Linked DNA regions of Homo sapiens: all the other regions are linked to region 3. The links come from fine-mapping of genetic effects on gene expression. A gene starts in region 3. Each other region holds a variant in brackets. All regions are shown on one strand. Distances are between the middles of the regions.

Region 1 (8,255 bases), 120 kb before region 3:
GGGAGGAGGAAAGAAGGAGGCTTAGAACACACTTATAAGAAGGAAGAAGGATGTTCCCACCCAGGGGCAAAAGAAGATTCAAACTTCTCTGAAGCTACAGTGACCTGTGGTATGTGCTGCCTCCATTTCTCCAATTGTTCTTGGAGAACAAGACAACAGAGGGCCCAGTAATACTCACCTCCCTGCCAGCAGAGTTCACCCAACCATGCTGGCCAAGCACTGCTGGTCACTCCTACCTCTAGTGCTTCTTGGACTAAGAGTCCCCGCTCTGGGCAGTGGCTGTGGTTTGGCCCCACCCTTGGCCAGGGTGTTTTGCACCCTCGTTGCCTGGGCCCCACCCAAGAAGCCTGTGGCCAAAGCCAGCTTGCTGGGAAATGGTGTGTGCCTGTGCCCTAGATGGGGTGGTGCCTAAGCAGGGGTGTGCTCCTGCTGCCCAGGGCCCGCCCTCAGGGAATTGGCCCTCTGCCATGAAGGTCACAGAACCTAGGCCACTACTGTGCAAGAGGGCACGGGCTTTAGGCGCTGGCTCAGTGGCCCTGCAGTTTTCTGGCCAAGAGCTCCATGGCAGCGGGCCCTGGGCCTGGGCCTTTGACCTGGGGCCTCTGTTAGGAGTGGTCCTGATCCTGCTTCTGGCAGAGGCACACACAGGGCTCCTCCAAGTACAGGCAGCCAGGCTCAGGATGGGAGGGAGCAGCCAGTCCCAACAATTACACAGTTCGGGAGCTGAAAAGTTATGTTTGCCACTCTCAGGAGCCAGCTGTGGAAGGGAGGCCAGTGGAGGGCTTTGCCCTGGCCTCTGAGCCACACACAAGCCGTGCTGGGAGGACAAGGGCCGGGGGTGGTGAAGGACCCTCTTGGAGCCTTTGCTTTCCAGGAGCAGGCACTCGTCTTCCATATCACACTCACAAAGGCTGGTGGCTTCAGTGGCTGTGACCAGCTGGCCACAGCTGACTCCTCTGGGGTAGTGCTGTTTCTAAATATTAGTTCCTGCTGTTAACCCTTGCTGTGCGGCCCCAGTGGACAGCCGGCTGCCTGCAGACAGAGCCTCTTGGAAGTAGAGTGGACAGTCCCCACCTGGATGAAAAATTTGTGAGTATATTTGCTTGAGGGCTGGGTTGGGGCTCCCAGAAGGAGGGTGAGAAATACCTGCTTAGGGCTGGGAATGAGGCTTGCAGTAGATGTCAGGGGATGTGGGTCTGAGCTGGCCACTGGGCAGGGCAGTGGAAAGAATGTGGGGTCAGGAGCCAGGAGCCCGGTCCTGCCAAGCCTTTTTTTATGTGGCCCCAGACAAGTCACTTCGCCTTTCTGTACCCCTTTCCTCATCCGTAAAATGTACAGCCACCGAGGTGCTTGGATGATGGCCTCCAACAGAAGCGCCGGAGCTTTATAAACTCTGAAGTGCCTGGTGGTTATGATGATTTTTATGCCAGGGTCCTGCTGTCTGTGACTCCCCCGAGTCCCTTGGAGGAGAGGCAAGACTGACAACCAAGAGACAGCTGGAGCAAGCTGGCGGGGCTGCTGTTAGCCTGTGTGGAGCTTTAGTGGGGACACCACCCTATACAAGAATACCCAGCTTGGAGTTCAGCCCCTACTGGCCCCATTGGCTCTTGTCCTTGCACAGTGAAAAGCCTAGTGGTAGCCAGGCTCCAAGATGGCCCTCAGTGAGCCTCACCTTCTGGCATTCATGCCCTTGGGTAGCTCCCTCTCATGTTGAATACAGCCACCTTATGCAGCCAATAGGGTGTTGCAGAAATGATGAAGTGACGTCCAAGATGAGGTCAGAAAAGATATGGTAGCTTTTCCCTTGCTCTCTTCTGATTGCAGCCACCATGATCTGAGGATAATTAAGTAGACTGTGGAGGTGCCAATGTGGAGAGGAACTGAAGCCTCTTGCCAGCAGCCAGTATCAACTCACCACTCATGTGAATGAGCCATCTTGGAAGTGGATCTGCCAACCCTAATCAAATCTTAAGATTAATACAACCTCTACTTTTTTTTTTTTTTTTTTTTTTTAAGATGGAACCTAGCTTTGTTGCCCAGGCTGGAGTGCAGTGGTGTGATCTTGGTTCACTGCAACCTCTGCCTCCCGGATTCAAGTGATTCTCCTGCCTCACCCTCTCGAGTAGCTGGGATTACAGGCATGCACCACCATGTCCAGCTAATTTTTGTATTTTTAGTAGAGACGGGGTTTCACCATATTGGTCAGGGTGGTCTTGAACTACTAACCTCAAGTGATCCACCCGCCTTGGCCTCCCAAAGTGCTGGGATTACAGGCATGAGCCACCGTGCCTGACCTCTACTGACACCTTGACTGCCACCTCCTGAGAGACCTGGAGCCAAAACCACCCAGCAAAGTCACTTTTAAACTCCTGACCCACAGCAACTGTGTGCAACAGAAGGAAGTTGCTGTTTCAAGCAATTATATTTTGAAAGTAATTTGTTATGCAGCAAGAGATTACTGATAGAAGCCAGCACATCGTAGATGGCAGTCCAGTGAGTCAGACCTGGCACGTGCCTGGGGCTCAGAAAGCAGGACTCTGCTTCCATGAAAAGAAGTGACATTCCTTGATCAACAAATTCATTCATTCAACAAATATTTCTTAAGCACAGATCATATGTCAGGCACTATGCTGATGCTGAGGGCTGGGGACACAGGTGAATAAACAGGACCCTGGTTTTGGGGAACTGACAGGCTCCCCAAAGTGACTTGGCAATTGGTTGGATGTGGGAGTTGGGATAAGGGAGGTGTCCAGGACAAGCCTAGGTTTCTGGCTTGGGCACTTAGAAGGGTGGGTGGTGGTGTCATGGATTGAGATGGACAGGGACTGGGGGGTATCTCATAAGGAAATCTTGGGGCATGTTGATTTCAAGGTGCTTGTGAGAAACCCAGGTGACACTGTGCAGGCGGCTGTATATGTGAGCCTAATGCTCCTAAGAAGGTCTAGTCAGGGGAAGTTTTACTTCCGGATTGCTGGGGTATCGATAAGGGAATTAAAGCAACCAGAGGAGATGAGGCTGCCCGGGAGAGAGGAGCGCGGTGCAAAATGGGAGGAAGACCCAGCACTGAGCCCTGAGACACCAACGTCTCTTCCTTAAAATGTTTATTTTGACATAATTTCAGACTTAGATAAAAGTGGCAAGATGATTACAAATGTTTCCCACATACTCCACCTAGATTTCCCAAATGTTAATTGTTTACCACATTTTAAATTCTTTTCTCTCTCTCTCTCTTTTTTTTTTTTTAGATGGAGTCTCACTGTTTCCAGGCTGGAGTACAGTGGTGCATTCTCAGCTCACTGCAACCTCTGCCTCCCAGGTTCAAGCGATTCTCCTGCCTCAGCTTCCCGAGTAGCTGGGACCACAGGCACGTGCCACCAAGCCCAGCTAATTTTTTGTATTTTTTTTTTTTTTTTTTTTTTTTTTTGGAGATGGAGTGTTGCTCTGTCGCCCAGGCTTGAGTACAGTGCAGTGGCCCCATCTTGGCTCACTGCAAGCTCCGCCTCCTGGGTTCACGCCATTCTCTTGCCTCAGCCTCCCGAGTAGCTGGGACTACAGGCGCCCGCCACCACGCCCGGCTA[A/AT]TTTTTTTTTTTTTTTTGTATTTTTAGTAGAGACAGGGTTTCACCTTGTTAGCCAGGATGGTCTCGATCTCCTGACCTTGTGATCCGCCTGCCTTGGCCTCCCAAAGTGCTGGGATTACAGGCGTGAGCCACCGCACCTGGCCAATTTTTTGTATTTTTAGCAGAGATGGGGTTTTACTGTGTTAGCCAGGGTGGTCTCTATCTCCTGACCTCGTAATTTGCCCGCCTCGGCCTCCCAAAGTGCTGGGATTACAAGCATGAGCCACCACACCCGGCCATCTCTCTCTCTATTTTTCTGAACCATTTGAAAGTAAGTTGCAGACATAATGCTCCTTTATTCCTAAATATTTCAGTGAGTTTTTCCTCTTTTTTAATTTTTTTTTTAAAATGAGACAGGGTCTCGCTCTGCTGCCCAGGCTGGACTGCAGTGGTGCCATCAGAGCTCACCACACCATCAAACTTCTGGACTCAAGGGAGCTTCCTGCTTGAGTAGATGGGATTACAGGCACACACCACCGTGCCTGGCTATTTTTTTTTTTCTTTTTTGGTAGTGACAGGGTCCCACTGTGTTGTCCAGGCTGGTCTCGATCTCCTGGGCTCAAGCAGTATTTCCTAGAACAGGACCTTCTCTTTCATAACTGGAGTGCAATGATCAAAACCAGGAAATTAACATTGGTACAATACTTTGAACTAAGCCATAGACTTTTTTCTCCCCAGCTTTGCCAATTTTCCCAAAAATATCCTTTATAACAAAAGAAAACCTCGGCTTTCTTCTGAGTGTCTATTCATCTTGCATGGTTCTTCAGCGTTTCATTGTCTTCCATGATGTTGCCATTTTTGACAAGTACAGGCCAGTTCTTTTAGGTGAATTTTGGTTTGAGTTTGTCTGTTTTCCTCATGATTAAATTCAGGTTCTGTATTGTGGCAGGAATGCCTAGGAAGTGATGCCGTGCCCTTCTCACGCAGCCTATCAAAAGACACATAACTGGCTGGGCGTGGTGGCTTACACCTGCAATCCCAGCGCTTTGGGAGGCCAAGGAGGGCAGATTACTTGAGGTCAGGAGTTCGAGACCAGCCTGGCCAACATGGTGAAACCCTGCCTCTCCTAAAAATACAAAAATTAGCTGGGCATGGTAGCAGGCTCCCCTAATCCCAGTTATTCAGGAGGCTGAGGCAGGAGAATTGCTTGAACCCAGGAGGCAGAGGTCATAGTGAGCTGAGATCACGCCACTGCACTCTAGCCTGGGTGACAGAGCAAAAGACTCTGTCTCCCCCAAAAATCCCCCACAAAAAAACCAAACAAACAAAACCAAGAGGCACACATCTATTGTGCAATCATTGGGATGTTGACTCGTATCACTTGGTTGAGGTGATGCCTGCCAGGCCTCTCTTCTATAAAGTTACTGTTTCCCCTTTGCAATGAATAAGCATACGCCAACATTGAAAGGTCAGGTTGAGGAAGGAAGGAAGCCAGGAAGAAAGCCAGTGCAGGGGCAGCCGAGAGACAGAAGGAAAGAAGGAGGGCGTCCTGGAGCCAGCAGGAGGGGCAGCATGAGTGAGGCAGGGCTGGCATTTATTGCATTAGAGGATGAAGAGTGTCCCTTGGAAGCAGCTGCCACCTGCAGGTGGCGGGCGTCGAGTTAAGCCTCTTTCGGGTGGAGCAGTGGGCCTGGAGCCAACTCAGGCTGAGTCAAGTGTGAGAGGGAGGTGAGAATGGAGATGACTGGAAAACACCTCTGTGGGGAAGGTGGTCTGTGGGCTGGGCAGAGAGGGACAGGCAGTGACGGAGAAGCATGTGGGCTTGGGGGACAGTTTGAATAGATAGAGGGGACTTAGGATATCTAGAGTGTGACAGGAGGGAGCCAGATGAGAGGCGCAAGTCCAAGGAGAGGGGTGCAATCCACAGTGTCCCAGGCGGGACGTGGGAGCCGATGACAAAAGACATGGCGGTTCTGAGGCTGTGATGGGGGGTACTCGTCAGAGCCCAGCCTGATGGGGCAGGTGGATGGGGGGGCCGGAAGGATGGCCAGGCGAACAGAGGAGAGTGAGCCATGCAGGGGATGATCCCTGGGGGTGGGGGAGAGGGGGAGGGCAGGCTGCCCAGAGGTGGGGGTGGGTGGCAGGTGGCGAGGAGGGCAGGTCCAAGGTTCTGGCCATGAGACTGTCCTGACAGCTTTAGCTGCCTGATGCAGATGGACAACGCAGACCTGGGGGACGCAGTGCTGGGATGTTCCAGGAAAGGGGCTGGATGAGGAGGGTGGTGAAAGCTGGAGGGGCCTGAAGGATGACGCAGAAGTGCAGGGAGTGCAGGGTCAGCACTGGGGTCTCAGAGATGGGGGGCAGGGGATGGCCTCCCAGAGAGACTGGCTGTCAGTGCTGTGGGAGGTGGTGAGAAGCCCAGGATTGCAGTGGGGGACCGGCCTGTGAGGGAGTGGAGTGGAGGTGTTTGCACATGAGGAGGTCTGGGAACGGGGAGGCCAGGGCATTGGTGGTGGTCCCTGGGGAGGCCTGAGCTATCAGGGTCATGGCAGGAGTTGGGGTGGGGTGGAGGTGGCCTCGAGCCACGGCTGCTAGGTTTATGAGTAGGGACCCAGGGCAGCCCTGAGGAGCTGAAGGGGGACACACCTGGATGCCAGTGCCCCAGAGGAATGGGGCATTTGATGGGGAGGGCACAGTCTGGGGACCAAGGCAGCCAGAGACCCACGGCACTGTGGACTCTGAGGCATGAGGGATGTGAATGTCGGAGCAGCCAGCTTTGGACAGGGCCGAGGGCCACCTCCAGGGGTGAGCTGGGTCTCCATCAGAGCTGGAGGAAAGGAAGCATTTGGAACAAATTGGAGTGGCTTGTGACCTGCTGGGGTGCGGGGTGGCCTAGTTTCCTGAAGAGCTGTGCACCAGGATGATGGGGCAGAAGCAGTGAGGGAGGAAGGCAGGAGGCTCCCCGGGCCTGAAATACTTGGAGACTGCCCGCTCACCAGGAAGGTGGGGGTCCCAGCCCCAGATCCGGCCCCTCTCAGCACTGGGATACCATCAGGGCTCGCAGCTTCCTACAGGAAAAGCTGACGCGGATGGGGCTGAGGACATAGCATTGGCCCTGGCCTGAGGCCAGTGAGGCTGGGTCACCCCCCAGCCTGGCTCAGCCCTCCCTTACCCAGAAATCAGAGGTTTACTTGCCCCATGGGCATATGGGGGCACACAGGGTCTGCTGCTGGGGGGACTGGGCCCCTGTCCTCTGTTCTGAGGCCTGTGGTCCCTCAGGGGCTTCTGGACACCCTGCATGCCTGTCCTACCTGCTGCTCTGAGCCCTCGCTGTGCCTGCTGACTGGAATGCGTTCAGAGCATGGCTTGGTTTCTATTCAATCAGAGACTATGATCCAAGGAGAGCCCTGGGTTTTGTGTCCTGGTTCCATCTCTGCTATTTTGATGTAGTAGGAGACTTTGGGCAAGTCCTTGTTCCTTTCCGGGCCTCAGTTTTCTTAACTGTGTACTGGGGTGGTGACAGACACCCCTGTCTAAAGCCAGCAGTCATCTGGTTCCTGAGATGGACACCGCTGACCCGGTTCAGGTCAAATCCCTAGTCTGTTACGAACAGTGGAGGTGACAGGCCCCAGGCCCCCAAAAGCCTCCTGGGTTCTTAGGAATGAAGAGGTTCCCAGCATGTTTTCAGGCCTGGGGCTCATCCATCCGTCAGATGGGGCTGGCTGCCTTCCCTCCCCTTCTATGTGTCCTCTCATACCGCCCTCCAACTCCAACTGCTCCCCTGCCAAGGGAGTGCTCTTGGTCACAGGCACAGGAAGCAGCCCCTTGAAGGCTCAGCACCACCCCTCTGTCCTCCTTTATTTGCTTCCCACTCCTTTTTGTATCCATTGAGCTAGACATGGATCTCTAAAGATACCACACCCTGGGATAGGATTCTGGGGAGGAGCTATCAGACAGTCACACCTTAGTGATAATTGACTTGATATTTTGCCAGGGGAAAAATAGACTTGACAGAAGAGAGGGCATGTCCAGAGCCTGGGAGGTAGGTGGGAGAGGCAGGGGGTAGAGAGCCCCCAGGGGGCTGTGTGTGCTGCACAAACCCTTCACCCGTGACCCACCAACCCTTTCCATTCCTTTCCCCAACCTTAGGGCACCCACTGGGAGTGAAGCGCTAGCTGATACGTAACACCATCTCTCCATTTCCCTTCCCTGACCCAGGGTCCTGGGGACCCCCAGGCCACTTGGCCTGGTTGGTGATGGGGGACAGTGGGATAGTCAGGGTTCCATAACTAAGCTCCCAGCATAGAATTTCCACGCCGCAGTTCAGGCGCCATGGCAACCAGGGGAAATAAACACTACGAGTTTCACAGTCCAAGCTCTGCCGTGACGTCATCTCCAGCTCCAGCCTGCTGGGGCCTGTGCTGACTGTGCCCCAGACAGCCTTAGCTGCTCAAGCTGGAGAACTGTCTTCCTTCCCAGCTTCCTCCGTGTCTGGGGTGGGGGATGGGGGGGTCTCAGGCAGGGATACTCTAGCCCCTTGACTGCTGTTTAGACCCTGCTGTAGCTGCTGCTGCTCCCTGCCCAGCCCCAGCCATGAAACTGCCCAAGGGGACCAGGAGCTCTGTGTACTTTGCACAGCACCCAGAAAAGGAGCCATTGCCCTCAAGGCAGGAGGTCAAGCAGACCCCTGTCATCATG
Region 2 (8,255 bases), 33 kb after region 3:
TAACTTTTTTTCTAGTTATAAACGTCAATAGATGCTTACTACATAAAACTTGGAAATTAGGGGAAAGCATTAAATGCCTCCAGAGATAACTAAGATTAACTGAAATTAACATTTCAATGTAAGTTCTTCTGGTCTTTCTTTTTCTGTGCTTATTTCAGCGTAACTGAAATTCTTTCTATTCTTTTTTGTATTGTTTTTCATTTTAAAGTTTTTCGTTACAGGAGAAATTAGGCTATGTTAGTATTTCAGTGGCCTCTTAATATTTTGCTATTTTGCACATGCAGATTTTGTGTTTATTTTTGTGGCTGCAAGGTTGAAATAGGTATCCTTATGCCTAAATTAGTGTTTATAGTTTAAACTAGTTTCTTAGAATACAATTCTAGAAGTTGAGTTTCTGGAACAAACTAGGAACACTTAAGGTTCTTGACACCTGCTGCTAAACTGTTTTAAAGGTTCCTCTTAATAGGAGATTTAGAAGATGGCTTATTTGGTAATAGTTATGATTTTGTAAAGCTTTTAAATCTGCTTTACCCAGAGTCTAGATTTTAAATAAAATATAGGATATAAAAGGTGGGAGCCTCTTGAATGGAATGTGGGGGCTTTTTCTCTCTCCCTATAGGATAGTTACATTTTGTTTCTTGTTCCTCATTTGAGTCAAGAATAATTTAATGTTATTTTGGCATAAGAAACTGCTGAAGAAAAATAGGTTGAATAAGCTAACATTTTTCGTCTCTTTGTAGGATATAGAAGACTTAGATCACTATGAGATGAAGGAAGAAGAGCCTATTAGTGGGAAAAAGTCAGAGGATGAAGGAATTGAAAAAGAAAATTTGGCAATATTAGAGAAAATTAGGAAGACTCAAAGGCAAGACCATTTAAATGTAAGTGTGTGTAGATATCTAGAACCTGGACTTTTGTGGTTAAATAATTGTAGTTAATACCAGGCAATTCATTAACATGCCCATCTCAGCTGCCCTCTTCCTCCATTTCTGCCTTAGTGGTGGATTCAGTCATGTGTGTTTTAAAACAGGGTCTTGCTCTGTCGCCTAGGCTAGAGTGCAGTGGCACAATCATAGTTCAGTGTAGTAGCCTTGATCTCTCAGGCTCCAGTAATCCTGCTGCCTCAGCCTCCCAAGTAGCTTGGACTATAGGCACATGCCACCATGCCAGGCTAGTTTTTTTTATTTTTAGTAGAGATGAGGACTCTCTGTTGCCCAGGCTGGTCTTGAACACCTGAGTTCAAGTCATCCTCCCATCTTGGCCTCCGAAACTACTGGGATTACAGGCATGAGCCACCGTGCCTAGCCTTAGTCATATGTTTTGTTGCTGTAGATTACGTTTCTTATCTATAGATAGCCACTTTTTACCCTGTTCATCTGCTCTTCATATCCTGGAACCACCTGCTGATCCCTGTATTTGCCCCTTCCCGGCCTGTTTATGCTGTTTTCTCTGCTTACCTTCCTCTCATGGGATCTGTATATTCAAATTCATCCTCTCCGACAAAATACAATTCAAGTTCTTTCTCCTTCGTGAAGCTGACTTTGGTCTGTCCTGCTCTGACCCAACCAAAAGTAATTTTTCTCTTTTGACTTAACATCCTTTTTTTTTTTTTTTTGGATGAAGTTACGCTCTGTCTCCCGGGCTGGAGTGTGGTGGCATGATCTCAGCTCACTGCAGCTTCCACCTCCCAGGTTCAAGCAGTTCTCCTGCCTCACCCTCCTGTGCAGCTGGGATTATAGGTGTACACCACCACACCTGGCTAATTTTTGTATTTTTAGTAGAGACAGGGTTTCACCATGTTGGCCAGGCTGGTCTTGAACTCCCGACTTCAAGTGATCCACCTGCCTTGGCCTCCCGAAGTGCTGGGATTACAGGTGTGAGCCACTGTGTCCGGCCACAACTTAATATCTCTTTTACGTGAAGCAGCAGGATGTGAAAAGAACACTGAGTCTGGTGACAAACACACAATTTATGGTTTCACTTTCCTCAGCTCTAAAATATGGCTAGACAGTACATACCTTTTGGATGATTGCTATCAAAAATAAATGAAAATGATGTGTGTATATATATAAAATGCTCAGAGTAGGGAAACATCAAATGATTGTCTGAACACTTACTACTTTTTGCCTTGTGTTAGAGCTATTGACCAACTCCGTGAAATCTGAGTAGCAGTTACTTTGTCTTGGGCACAGGTTCCCCAAAACAGGGAATGAATTGTTAGGTAAGTAGATGCCAAATGTTGAAAACAGGTAGATTACTCTCCCTCCTTCAGTCTAATTTATATATTAATCTAATTTATAATTTTTAGTAGAGCAAAGAAATTTAGTCAAGCCCCCATATCTTGATTACTTAAAAAACAAAGTTTGTCATTTGAATTAATGATGACTGTACTTTATGTCTTGTGATCGATTCCAGTTTGAGTTATAGTCAAAACAACTATAAGTTACTGAACACTTTTGCATGATGGATACTATGCCAAGTACTTTATACTTCACATATCTTCACATTTAGTCTTCATAGCCACCGTGTGAAATAGGTATGCTTCATATTTTAGAGATAGGAAAAACTTCTCATATTTTGTAGATATGAAATGAGCTAGGAAACTTGATTTTTCCCCCCTTCAAAGTATAGTGCAATGTTTAAAATCTTTAATTTCACGTGACCAAAAAATAGTTCCGTTTGTATTTAGTCTTATGATAAGATATTGATGTGTTTTCATCTTTAGAGATGTCCCTGCACTGAAAAACTGAAACCAGTCGCATGTAGGCAGATGTTTCTCAGTGTCTTAATGTGCGAACTAGACCATCTGTGTAATATTCTTGTTTGTAGTCTTATGAATGGAACTCTATTTTAGTAAATAATGTGTCACCTTGAGTGTCTTCTAGTATTTTCAAAAATTGCTGGGGTTTGGAATAGACTCATACTGAATTCTTTGTTATTGTGGAATCCATGGTGGTCTGGACATGTTGGCTAGACTTTTTCACATGAGAAGAAATAGGAAATGAACTAGACTTGTGCCTAGTTTTAATATCCTCTTGAAACTTCATAATGCTTCATTTAATTGGGCTTTTTTTTACTTCTTAAAATGTTGAGGTTGGGCACAGTGGCTCATGCCTGTAATCCCAGCACTTTGGGAGGCCGAGGCAGGCAGACCACGAGGTCAAGAGATTGAGACCATCCTGGCCAACATGGTGAAATCCCGTCTCTACCAAAAAAAAAAATACAAAATTTAGCTGGGCGTGGTGGTGCGCACCTGTAGTCTCAGCTACTTGGGAGGCTGAGGCAGGAGAATCTCTTGAGCAGGGAGGCGGAGGTTGCAGTGAACTGAGATTGCGCCACTGCACTCCAGCCTGGGTAACAGGGCTAGACTCCATCTCCAAAAAAAAAAAAAAAAAATGTTGAGTGGTGATCCATTTTTGCTGTAATCTTTTAGATCAGGTTGAAATATCTTAAATCTTAGCTCAGCAGACCCTGGTAAACAGTGGCTTTTGTGTTTCAGGGTGCAGTGTCTGGGTCAGTGCAAGCTTCAGATAGACTTATGAAAGAGCTCAGGGACATATACAGATCACAGAGTTATAAAACAGGTAAGGATCTCTGGATCCCTGCTCTCTTTATGATTCTTCTGCTCTTTTCTATTGTCAGATTATAAATGTCATTTCTTAAAACTGGACAGAAATGGAAATGTTTACTAGCTTTATTTCAGGAATGTGAAACTCAAATGCAATCAAGTTCCAAAAGATGTAGGAGTAAAATAGGATGAGTTTACTTGTCTTTTGGATTTTTAAAAAATGTTTTTATAGGTCCATTGGAATTTTGTCCTCTTCTTGATAAACAGTGAACTCTTACATGATTTTTATCTTCTGGGGAAAGCATGAGCGATATTGCTTGGAAAGTAAATAAGAGTAAAACATTTCATTTTACAGAGAATAATTGCCAAGTTGATTTTTATGATTCCCCCCCATTTTTGAAAGCAAGATAATCAGCTTTTATTGTAAAGATAGTTATGTTATTACCTTTAAAATATATAAGTTTTTAAAGTTTTCATTTCCTTGTTTGACGAGTATTCTTACTCAATATGACTTGAATGTTATGGAACCTCTCTAACTAGAGGTAAAATTCTCATATTGTTATGGAGATTCTAATAGTATTAAATAATGAGCCAAACTTTAATTTGAAAAGATAGCATTGGTTGGGTG[C/T]GGTGGCTCACACTTATAATCCCTGCACTTTGGGAGGCCAAGGTGGTCAGCTCACCTGAGGTCAAGAGTTCAAGACCAGCCTGGCCAACATGGCGAGCGAAGCCCCATCTCTACTAAAAATAAAAAATTAGCCGGGTGTGGTGGCGCACGCCTGGTGATCCGAGCTACTCAGTGGTCTGAGGCAGGAGAATCACCTGAACCCAGGAGGCAGAGGCTGTAGTGAGCCAAGATTGCACCACCGCACTCCAGCCTGGGCAGCAAGAGTGAGACTCTGTCAAAAAAAAAAAAAAAAAAAAAAAAGGGTTATGACCGATTCAATTCTAGCATTATGACCGATTCAGGAATTCTTAGCGTGAGCAAATCAAAATTAATTAGAATTTGCTTAAAGAATAAAAACAAGGAAAAAATCCTTGCTTTGTAGTGTGCAGGATAAGCCAAACTTGTTTCTGAGTTGTTAGAATTGTGGGTGTCCTTACGGTTTTTTGTGTAAGAAGTCTAAAAGTTTATCTGTAGAAACCTAATAAAGTACAAACATTTGAATACTGGTTTTATTTTTAAATGTTAAATAATCATTTGTTTCAGCATTGTTTATATAGAAAAAAAAAAACAGATACTGGGTGGAATTTGTTAAAGCATATCCATAAAATAAACTACCACAGAGTCATTAAAAAGATTGTGAATAGGTTTATGTATACTAACTTGGAAAGATGTCCCTGAAAGTTGAAGAGAGATTATAAAACAACATACGTAGAAGGATTCCATCTTTGTAGAAATGTGTGTTCATGGAAGAAAAGTCTTAAGTACATATGATTTTGCATAATCTTTTTTTCAGTCAGACTAAACGGTAAGCAGTTTTTCAACTCATTAAAGAATCTTCTCAGTTGATGGCTGTAATTATCTGTTAAGGGCATAAGATACTCAGCTGCAGTAGTGTAATATTTACTATATAGCTTAGTTGTTCCATGTTTTAAGAGCAAAATTTCTAGCTTTCGTTGGCTATTTAGTGTATACATTTATACCATAGTAATAGTTATATGATGAAATGAAGAGTAGCTAACATGCTCTATATCTTAACAGGGATTTATTCAGTGGAACTCATAAATGACAGTTTATATGACTGGCATGTTAAACTGCAGAAGTAAGTGGCTTTTTAATGCTCACCCACTCTTTGCAATGGTAGACTATCACAGTGGAGGTTATTTTCCTTCTAACTTGATACCTTTATACTATGGCTTTTACTTAGAACTTTAGACTTTGTTTCTATAGAAATAGTTCTTAGATTGTTTAAATGAGCTGTTGCTGAGGTCTAATAAGAAAGTGAGAAAGAGGAAGGACAGAAAGAGGGACCAGCTGCGGGATAAAGTGTTTTATGGAGTTAGAGCAGGGGAACTTAAAAACAAAAGTGTATTTAATAACTTCATGAGACTGTGATAACCAGTTTATATTTGAAATATATACAGCACTTTGGGAGACTGAGGTGAGAGGATCTCTTGAGCCCAGGAGTTTGAGACCAGCCTGGGCAACATAGCAAGACTTCATCTCTACAAAAAAAAAAAAATTAGCCAGGCATGGTGGAGTACACCTGTAGTCCCAGCTACTGGGGGTGGTGGGAGGCTGAGGCAGGAAGATCTTGCACTCCAGACATCAAGGCTGCAGTGAGTCACGATCGTATCACTATATTCCAGCCTGGGCAACAGAATGAGGCACCCGGTCTCTTAAAAAAAAAAAAAAAAAAAAAAAAAAAGTTGGGGGGAGGTGGGATTCAAATTAGACCTGTATATATAGGACAGTTGTAGACAAATACAGGTTTTTTTAGTGATTTAAGTTTTCATAGTTCTGACCATGGCAAACTTTTCTCCTTGAACCCTTTGGCTAATAATGTAAGTTTAATATGCTTTCCTAAACTTTTTTTGAGTTCTTGAGAAAATTATATTCATGTGACTATTTTCCTTTAGAGTGACTGCAAACTCTGAACTCCTTTACTAGATTAGATTTAGAGTATTATGGTCTCTTTTGGACATTTATTCCCAAGGAGCTGGAACCTATGGTGACCTCTATTTTTCCTGGTGATACAGAGCAGCTTTAGACCTTCTCTTTCTGGAACTTGCCCTAGGTGCTCTATTTTAGCTGTCATACTAGTTCATTTTTGAGTTTAGTTAAAAAAAAAAATCTCTAACTTTTTATTTGAACTGTTTTTTGTTTTGTAATTCTTAGGGTTGACCCTGATAGTCCTTTGCACAGTGATCTTCAGATCTTAAAAGAAAAAGAAGGCATAGAATATATTTTGCTTAACTTCTCTTTTAAGGTAAGAAAATAGTTACAGGACCCCATATACTTCCAGTGGGGTGCGTATATTTGTACAAGTGCTTTGGAAAACAATTTGGTAAAGTAGAAGATACTCATACCCTATGGTTCAGGAATCTCGTAGACATATTCTCCGTTAAGACGTGAGTACTTAGGCGTACCAGGAGACACAGGAATGTTCAGAGCAGCATCGTTTATAATAGCACCAAATAGAAAACCCAAGTGTTCATTCCAATAAAATGGAGAATTGTGGTGTTTATAAAGTGGTTTACAGCTATGTGGGACAAGATGGGTGGATCTTGAACACAGTTGTAAAAGAGACTGGACTCCAAAACCTATTTTGTACAATTCCCTTTATATACAGTTCAAAAATAGGTAAAACTAATGTTGATTAGGGCATGCATTCTTAGTGGAGGCAATATCACCTGCAGTGTAGTGAAAACTGATCTTTAGAGTGAAAACAATCTTAGCTATTAAAATGGTCTGCTGCCCTCCAAAGGGCCACAGAACATAAACAGATATACGATTTATCTATGGTGTTAAAATTCCATGGAGCAGGGGGGTAAAACTAGGAAGAAAACTTCTAAAAAGGCTTCTTAGGGGGGCAAAAATGAAAAGAAAACTGAGAAACACTTATTTATGGATTCATACGTGAGCAGTAAAACTGCCCAAAGAGGAAAACTGTCCAAGAACAAAGAGGTGATTACATACAGGTTAGGGTAAGGAGTCCATCTAGGTGGGAGGTAGGGAGGTGTGAACTGAAAGGTATATCTGCGCAGGCTTCTTGGATACTGGCTGGAATATATTTCTGGGCCAGGTTGATGGTTACATGAGCACATAATTTACAATAGCTTCTTAAGGTATATCTCTATATTTTATGTACTTTTCTGAATTTATGTGTTATATTTAATAAGGTTTTTTTTTGTTTGTTTGTTTGTTTTTTGAGACAGAGTCTTGCTCTGTTGCCCAGGCTGGAGTTCAGTGGCACAGTTTTGGCTCACTGCAACCTCTGCCTCCTAGGTTCAAGTGATTCTCCTGCCTCAGCCTCCTGAGTAGCTGGGATTACAGGTGCATGTCACCATGCCCGGCTAATTTTTTTATTTTTAGTAGAGACGGGGTTTCACCATGTTTGCCAGGTTGGTCTTGAATTCCTAACCTCAGGTGATCTGCCTGCCTCGGCCTCCCAAAGTGCTGGGATTATAGGTGTGAGCCACCACACCTGGCCTAATAAGTATTTTAAAGATGCTAAAAATAATGGTTAAAGAATAGCAATGGAATCTAGAAAAAATGTTAATGATTTTTTTTTTTTTTTGAGACAGAATCTTGCTCTGTTGCCCAGGCTGGAGTGCAGTGGCCCAGGCTGGCGTGTGGTGGCACAATCTTGGCTCACTGCAACCTCTGCCTCCCGGGTTTAAGCAGTTCTCTGCCCCAGCCCCCCGAGTAGCTGGGATTATAGGCATGTGCCACTATGTCCGCATAATTTTTGTATTTTTAGTAGAGATGGGGTTTCACCATCTTGGCCAGGCTGGTTTTGAACTCCTGACCTCATGGTACACTTCCCTTGGCCTTCCAAAGTGCTGGGATTACAGGCGTGATTTAATATGGATCTGGATGAGATGTAATGGTTTAAAATCTGTGGATATATGAGATATTTTGATGGAAAAAGCAATACTTCCTTTGTACTTACAAAAAAGGTAGTAATTTTCTAAAAGCTTCTTACGTAGCTTTTTTATGTGTGTGTTTTTGCTTGGGGAT
Region 3 (8,255 bases):
CTAGCAGTTCTACTCCACACTGATTCCCTAGTGTGGTTCTTTCTACTGCCATTTCCCGTACTTCAATTTTTTTCACTCTTGACTCAGACTGATTCAAAGGCTCTTCATTGTTTGCAGCTAAGGAGCCTCAGAGCTGAGTATGACTTGCCCCATTGAATTAATGGCAGGCCAGATGTAGAATCCAGGTCTCTTGCTTCTTTTCGGTGGCTGCATACTTCTAAGCCCACTATAATCCATTTTATATATGAATGCCAGATTAATCTTTCTTTTTTTGTTTTTTTTTTTGTTTTTGTTTTGTTTTGAAACAGGGTCTCACTCTGGTTGCCCAGGTTGGAGTGCAGTGGTGCAATCTTGACTCACTGCAGCCTCGACCCCCTGGGCTCCGGTGATTCTCCCACCTCACCCCCCGAGTAGCTGGACTACAGGCACGTGCCACCATGCCTTGTTAATTTTTTGTATTTTTAGTAGAGATGGGTTTTCGCCATGTTGGCCAGGCTGGTCTCGAACTCCTGGACTCAAGCAATCCGTCTGCCTCAGCCTCCCAGAGTGCTGGGATTACAGGTATGAGCCACTGTACCTGGCCCAGATTAATCTTAAAAGTGATTACTCCAGTGAAACCCTGTCTCTACTAAAAATACAAAAAATTAGCTGGGCGTGGTGGCGGGCACCTGTAGTCCCAGCTACTTGGGAGGTTGAGGCAGGAGAACGGCATGAACCCGGGAGGCAGAGCTTGCAGTGAGCCAAGATCGTGCTACTGCACTCCAGCCTGGGCGACAGAGCGAGAATCCATCTCAAAAAAAAAAAAAAGAAAAAAAAAGTGATGACTTTTGTCCAGGCGCGGTGGCTCACGCCTGTAATCCCAGAATTTTGGGAGGCCAAAGCGGGCAGATCATGAGGTCAGGAGATCGAGACCATCCTGGCTAACATAGTGAAACGCTGTCTCTAGTGAAAATACAAAAATTAGCTGGACACGGTGGTGCATGCCTGTAGTCCCAGCTACTCGGGAAGCTGAGGCAGGAGAATCACTTGAACCCAGGAGGCAGAGGCTACAGTGAGCTGAGATTGTGCCACTGCACTCCAGCCTGGTGACAGAGCGAGACTCCATCTCGAAAAAAAAAAAAAAGTGATGCCTCTCACCAAATGAAACTATTATACTATAGTCTGTGGCATGGTATTTCAGGGCTCAAAATCTGATCAAAAGTAATATCTCAACTTTATCTTTCTCTTGGCCCCTTGCTGTACTCTACAATCAAATGGGCTCTTGAATATCCTCTGAATATGGCCCTACTTTCATGCAAATAATTCATGGAATTAGTTTCTTCCTCCCCTGAAATGTAGTTCAGTAGTTTGAACCTCATATCACATATGATCTGATGTTGTCTTTACTTGTCTGTGTAAGACTATGGTGACTCCCCAGCAACCATTCCATCCCAGCAGGTTGGAAATCCAGAGTAATCCCATCTACTTCTCTGTGATTGGTTAGGGGTGGGCATGTGACACACTTCTGGCCAAGGACACACTAAGGGAAGTCTGCTGGGAAGATTCTTGGAAAGCTTCCCATGTGTTAGAAGGAAACATAGAAGAAAATGTCCTTTCTGCCTCTGGATATTTTCATGTCTGGATGTGAACTGCAAGAACAGCTACAGCCACCTTGCTCTCAACCCAACAAAAGAGATGGAAAGAATTTGGACTTTTGATGACATGAAAGCTCAGGTCAACCAATCCTGGAGACTGTTCTGTCTTTGGACTTCCTATTATGTGAAGTAATTTATTTCCTTATTGTCCAAGGCAGATTAAATCACAGTTTTCTATTATTTGCAGCCAAAAGCATCAGGAAACAATATTTTGTTTTTGATGCTAAATGTTAAGCTTCTTAAAATCAGGGACTGTATCTATGTATCTTTCTAGCCCTCTTACAGCTTGGCATGCAGCAGATGGATGCTCAAAAAGCGACTGTGAAATTAATATTTGTATATATTTCTGGGATACAACTAGTAAAAACACTTGCAATTTAAAAAGCTCTATTTTCTCACAGCAATCTAGAGGTAACAAAATAAAGCTTAGACAGATTAAATAGCTTGTTTAGGGAATTTTGTTTCTCGAAGTCATACCAACTTCTCAAGAGTTTGTTGCTCTTTGTCTCAAATCCTTATCTGGGAATGCCATGCCTGTTAGGGTCCCAAGAAACTGGGGACTGAAGGAAAAATAAAGTGGCAAGCCACTTCTGTGCTTAACCCAGCAATAATGCTAATACAGTAGCCTAGTTGTTTCTGGCTCAGAACCCAGGCCTGGAACCCCTTCTTCTCCCAGTCCCAGTGTATAGTGTGGTAGCTCTAGTGCTGGGGTCATGAATCCCCATAAGTACAAAATTTTAGATGCAGAAGTATTTTCCTGGGAAGATGGATCATAGCTTTTATTAGATTCTCAAAGGGGTCTGTGAGAATCTTAGTCTTCTTAAAGGCTAGATAGAAGTTGGGGTAGAAGATGGTAGAAGTTGGGGCATGGCCAGGAAAAGTTAGGGCTGGTTTGAATGATAAGAGACTGAATTTGTAGGCTGTGGGGAGCTACTAACTTACTGAGGTAAATTGGAAAAGTTTATTTGTCTTCTTAAAGGCTAAGGACTATAACATGATACAAAATCTCAGAAGTAGATGGAAATAAAAACTTTCAGTAGACTTAATGTGTCCCTGTGTTGTTCTGTATTTTGTCATCTAAGGGGACCAGTAGCCCAGGGATCTCTTGTAGATTAGGAAGAAAGAGACAGGTGTCAGGGTTGGGTAACTCTAGGTAAGACTGGAAAAGGAAAATGCGGAGCCCCTTTCTGAAAAATTACGAATTTCAAAATGGCGACACCAGAATATTAAACCAAGCTCGAAGCCCTTCTAAGCTGGGAGCACTGTGCAACTACATAGGTTGGACGCATATGCAGCTGGTCCTGCCTCTTGCACTTACGATTGCACACACTATTGTCTGCCAAATTGGGATGTATTCCTTTGGACTGCTATCCAGACCTTTATTCATTTTTTGAGCACCTACAATGTGCCAGGAATTGTGCTAGTGGTGGGGATTCCAGATAAGAGCGAGCATTCAATTCAATCATATCGGGTTTCTACTATATAACAGGTCTTGTTCTAGGTCCTGGGGATACAGCTCTGAACACATTAACACGGGGCAGAGACAAGGAATAAATGGGTTAAAGATCAGATAGTGACAGGTGCCCAACAAAAACTTAGCACAGGACGATGTGACACAGGGTGACTATTTGAAATGGGTTGTGGTGGGGGGTGCCGGAGATGATATTTGAGCTATGAGTTTAGTGAAAATAGTGGGCAGCCCTAGCTCCATGGGGGTGTGGGTGGGGAGGGTTATCTTAAGCTTGGGAAACAAGGCAAAATAAGGAAAGGGGGGAGAGAGAGACTATATACGGCAGAGTGAACACAGGTGGTAGCTAAGGGAAGGGATGAAATCATGGGACACCTCCAGGCAACAGCCTCCAGGGGCTAAACCATCGTCTTGGGTAAATGGATGGTTTGAGAGCAAAGGCGGGAGCAGCGAGTCCGGTGAGAAGGTCCTCACAGGAACCCAGGCTGGTGAGAAGGTCCTCACAGGAACCCAGGCTAGCGAAGCGGTGGCTCGGACTAGGGTGAAAGTAGCGGAGGTAACGCTGGGTGAGCCGCACCCGCGTCTCCCACGAGGTCCCCCCAGTGAGGTTAGCGGGTGCCGCGCCGAGCGCCAAGCTGAGGAGCCGCCCCCAGGGGCTGGCGCTAGTCTGCAGCGGCGCCGACGTGGCCGGCGCGATCCGCCACGCACGTGTCCGGCTCCAGGCCGGGGGCGGGGGCGCGCGGGGGTCTCCGGCTCCTCCCCGACTTCTGGGGCCCGGGCGCCAGCTGGCCCCGAGCCTCCAGTCCGCGGGTGCGAAGAACGGAGCAGATGGGTCGGGAACAAGGGAGCTGGGTCAAGGCGAGGAGGGGGCGGCCGGGCGCGCGCGCTCTGGCCTCGTGCACGCGCTGAAACCGGAGCGCGCAGGGCGCGCCAGGGTGAGGGGGACGGGGGCGGGGTGGGGGCAGCCCTTTCCCAGGCGGTAGCGGGGGCGGCGTCGCTGTTGCCCTTTTAAGCCGCGGGGCCGCCGCCTCCTGCCGCTGGAGTCGGTTACAAAGGAAGCGCCACCCAGGCCGCCACACGCCGAGGCTTCCGCGCCCCTCGCCATTTTCCAGCAGCGCTCGACGAGGCGGAGCCGCGAGAGCGCGGCCCAGGCCGGCCCCGCGGGGCGGTCGCGGCCGTGACGGCGGCTCCGGGCCCGGCTCCCCTTCCGCGCCCGGCTCCCCTTCCGCGCCCCTCCCGCCGGAGATGAGGGGAAGATGTCCGTGTCAGGGCTCAAGGCCGAGCTGAAGTTCCTGGCGTCCATCTTCGACAAGAACCACGAGCGATTCCGCATCGTCAGTTGGAAGCTGGACGAGCTGCACTGCCAGTTCCTGGTGCCGCAGCAGGGCAGCCCGCACTCGCTGCCGCCGCCACTCACGCTCCACTGCAACATCACGGTGAGGCGCCCGGCCGCGGCCCCGCGGGGCAGGGCGAGGACGGAGAGGGGGCGCTTCGAGTCCCGGGACAAAGGGGAGCCTGCCCCGGAGAGGCTCCGGCTCCCCGGGCGGGGCAGGCCCGCCCCTTTCCCCCGCGACTTGCCCATCCCAGGCCGGGCTGGGACTGCGCGAGGCTTGGGTGGGAGGAGGCGGAGGGCGCGTCTTTCCGGCTTCTCGCCAGGGGCTGGCTTGGGGGCTTCTGGCCCATCTCGGTCCCCGTCTCCTAGCCCCGAGGGGGGAGTCCGCGGCGGCCCAAGCCCTTGTGGGGTCCATGGCCGCCCTCAGCCGGCCTGCTCCCGGGACCGGGGCGGGGCGGGGCGGGGCGGCGCAGCTCCGGCTGTTGTTTGAGCCCAGGCCGGCAAGGGGAACGGCCCTTAAGTTTTAACGCCTCATTTTTCAGTCGGATTTTCCTTCTTCCCGCTTGTTCAGCCAATTGTTTTTAAGTTTGCGTTTAAGGAGAAACTGACAATGAGAATGGACTCGTTGACGGAGGAAAAGTTGGAATGCAGACTCTGGTGCTGTTTGAGCGACCCCTCTCCCCCGGGCCTGGCTGCGCGCTGCTGTGTTCTGGAAAGGAGCATAGTACCGTCGTTGCGGCAGGTGGTGTTGAGTGTGTATTCGTGTGGCCCCTCCCTTGTGTGTAAGCCTCGAAAATGGATAGGTGAAAGGAGATACGCGCCAGGGCTGCTCCCCGGAAAGATCACGTATGTCACAAAGCCGAAAAGACACTTTTAAAAACTCACTCATTAAGCGGAAATCTCATTAGAAACCCAAGGCTTGGTAAAGGAATTGAAGTATTAAGTTTCTCCATAAAAGTGTATCGTGAAGCTATTCGTCGTGAAATTGATGTAGGATATTGGTCCAAACTGCAGAATATTCTCTTGGTTATAATAGGCGTCAAGGTGGTGGCTTCGGGCTCCTTTTCAAACATGGCTAAAACCAAGTCTTGTTTTTAACTCCCTTTGGTTGAGTCAGTGGGTACTCAAGTGCCTGCAGGGTGGCTGGCGTTTGCAAAAACCTTGATGTTATAATTGACCTTAAAATGGTTACCAGACTATCTGGGCAGAAGGTGTGTTAATTTCAAAAAAAAAAAGACAAGTGCTGTACTGAGGAGATAATTCATTTATTGAATGAATACGTCTGAGTGTTCTGGGCACTAGTGTTGCAGAATTGAGTGAAGTCGTCCTCGCTCTCAGAACTCAGTCTTCTTGGGGGAAGAGTTCAATAAGGTGACAGCTCCTGTGGTATCATCAGGAAAGCCAAAGCAACTAATTTTGACTTGGGGGAGGTGCGCTTCAGGGAAGGCTTTGATGAGAGGCTGAGACAGTTAGAGATGAGCTTCCACAGGTGACTACAATTTTGGAAGGCTGGCGGAAGGGCATTTTAGACTGAGGAAACTCCACCCAAAGAAGACACGGAGATTTGAGAAAGTGTGGTTTCCTTAGAAGTAGAAAATTTATGCTAAGACTTGAGAAGCCCACGATACAGGCTGGAGAAGGGGAGGATTTTCCAAGAGTGGAAAACAGAAAGTGTAGTAGTTGTCATGAAGCAGGTGTTTTAAGGAGACGGGCCTGAATGGCTTCGAGGGTGATTACTCTGGTAGAAGTTGGGGCATGGCCACGAAAAGGTAGGGCTGGTTTGAATGATAGGAGACTGAATTTGTAGGCTGTGGGGAGCTACTAAGTTTACTCAGGTAAGTTGGGAGAATGTATCTTTCATCCAGGATTAGAAATGGTTCTCTACAGTGGGTGGCATTAGGAAATGTGGTTATCCCAGTGGGGGTGGGGTGGTCTTATTGCTGTGCCGGCATTTAGTGCTAGGAGTACAGGGATACCAAATGTTTTGCAACGTTCAGGCAGTCTGCCACAGCAAAGAATTATCCCACCTAAAGTGCCACTGGTGCCCCATCGAGAACCATATTGAAGGCTGGTAAGAGTCTGCTGCAGATAAAAATAAGGAGTGATGACCTGGATTAGGCAGTGGCAACAGAAATGGAGCAAGAAGTGAATGAGACACTTTCAGTACAAGGAGGATTTAGTGAGGACTAGTGTAATGGCACCCACCGCTAGGTAGAAACTATTAAAATTGACTTGCTAGTGAAATATGACAGACTATCAGGAGATAATTATCATGGCAGCTGCTCAGTACAAATGTCTGCTAACTTTTTATTATGGAAAATCATCAAATGTACAAAAGTTGAACAGTGTAATGTAGCCAGCCTCAACAATGATAAACTTTTGGCTAATCTTCATCTGTACTCCACTTTAGATTATTTTGAAGCAGATTCCAGACAGATCACTTCATCTGTAAATATTTCTGCTTGTATCTTTTGAAGGTAAAAGACTCTTTTATTTTTTATTATTATTTTTTGAGACGGAGTCTCGCTGTGTCGTCCCAGCTGGAGTGCAGTGGTGTGACCTGGGCCCACTGCAACCTCCGCCTCCCAGGTTCAAGCAATTCTGCTGCCACCGCCTCCCGAGTAGCTGGGATTACAGGTTTCCGCCGCCACACCCGGCTAATTTTTGTGTTTTTAGTAGAGACGGGGTTTCACCATGTTGGCCAGGCTGGTCTTGAACTCCACCTCAAGCTCCCAAAGTGCTGGGATTACAGGAGTGAGCCACCGTTCCTGGCCGTAAAGACTCTTTTAAACATGGATGACTGTTTTGATAAAATGACATGGCTTGTTCATGTCGATACCATTTGCTTAGAAGGGAAAGATCAAGGGAAAAATGGGGTTGGATTTCAAATGATTTGGTTTGATCGATGATTTGTTATTCTCTAAAGTTGTAACTCTGGAAAAGGTAATGAGTTTGACTTATTCTTTAACTTTTCCTCTTTAGACAGTTCAAATATTTGAATTCTACATGCTAGGACTTGTTTTCTTTATACTTACCAAGAAACATCCTTATGCAGTTTCTCTAATGTTTGAGAAACTAAGTTGTTTTTTACACACGTGCATGCTAGTTCCTGAAGAGTCCTGTACAGGTGCTCTGCTGGCTTTTCCTTTCAGGTTTCTGTATCAGCTGTATTTCTCCCTGTAGAATGTGCCCCTGACCTCCACCCCTTAACCTTACCCCATTTGTCTTTATATGCCTGACCATCCGTCAAGGCTCTTCTGGGTCATATTTAGTTCATGCTGTTATTTCCCCTTCCTCCCTTCTTTAGTCCTTACTATTTTTGCTTTGGTCATGTTTTCTTATGCTGTATTCTGTAAGCCTTTAAATTTTTCTTTTTATGGTGGCAGGGGAGAATATTTTATAATTATGCTTTGTGCTTTTTATCTTCCACTCAATAAATGCTTCATAAATATTTGAGTATATAGCGCTATTCTAGCTGTATTGTATTTGAACAAAAATCTTAACTGCCTTGTAAGTTAACTGCTAAGAATTTGTCAAAAGTGCAGAGATAACATCAATAACTTGTCATGGATAGTACAAAAAGGTCTCTAAGGGCTTGATGGAAGTCTGTAAATTGACTTCATATGAGAGTGTAAGAAGTGAAAAAGACCAAAACAGAGTAGATGTTTTACTCTGTAGGCCAAGGGAATTGAGCTAATTCTTTTCCTGTTTTATAAATTTGTCCTGATCTTAAATAATGAAGGGAAAAGAGTGCTCTTTTTCAACCTCGAGTCCTTTTTATTCTTTTCTGTGAAGCCATGATATGAAAGATTGCCTGTTA

Direction of the effects. Alleles are on the strand shown, and positions count from the first base shown. SD is a standard deviation of normalised expression in the study named. Not every link is listed here.
With allele A in place of AT in region 1, the expression in NK cells of the gene that starts at base 4,139 in region 3 is lower (moderate effect, 0.60 SD a copy in Gilchrist 2021).

The links.
Region 1: its variant is fine-mapped to the expression of UBE2Q2 in NK cells (Gilchrist 2021, PIP 0.95).
Region 2: its variant is fine-mapped to the expression of UBE2Q2 in blood mononuclear cells (TOPMed, PIP above 0.99). The same link has a PIP of 0.9 or more in whole blood.

The regions. Positions count from the first base shown.
Region 1 is chr15:75,716,050-75,724,304 of GRCh38, forward strand. CIMAP1C (ciliary microtubule associated protein 1C) reads left to right here and starts at 7,992. Exons shown (of 4, transcript NM_175881.5): 1 at 7,992-8,255. The coding sequence starts at 8,151. RefSeq lists an enhancer at 8,062-8,231. The variant A/AT (reference allele first, on the strand shown) is at 3,579.
Region 2 is chr15:75,872,688-75,880,942 of GRCh38, forward strand. UBE2Q2 (ubiquitin conjugating enzyme E2 Q2) reads left to right here. Exons shown (of 13, transcript NM_173469.4): 5 at 741-881; 6 at 3,500-3,584; 7 at 5,274-5,334; 8 at 6,411-6,501. Among named protein-coding and RNA genes, the nearest start is that of FBXO22, 27 kb to the right of the region's middle. The variant C/T (reference allele first, on the strand shown) is at 4,197.
Region 3 is chr15:75,839,309-75,847,563 of GRCh38, forward strand. UBE2Q2 (ubiquitin conjugating enzyme E2 Q2) reads left to right here and starts at 4,139. Exons shown (of 13, transcript NM_173469.4): 1 at 4,139-4,538. The coding sequence starts at 4,359. RefSeq lists silencers at 3,720-3,899, 3,940-4,079, 4,220-4,299, 4,550-4,949 and an enhancer at 4,221-5,118.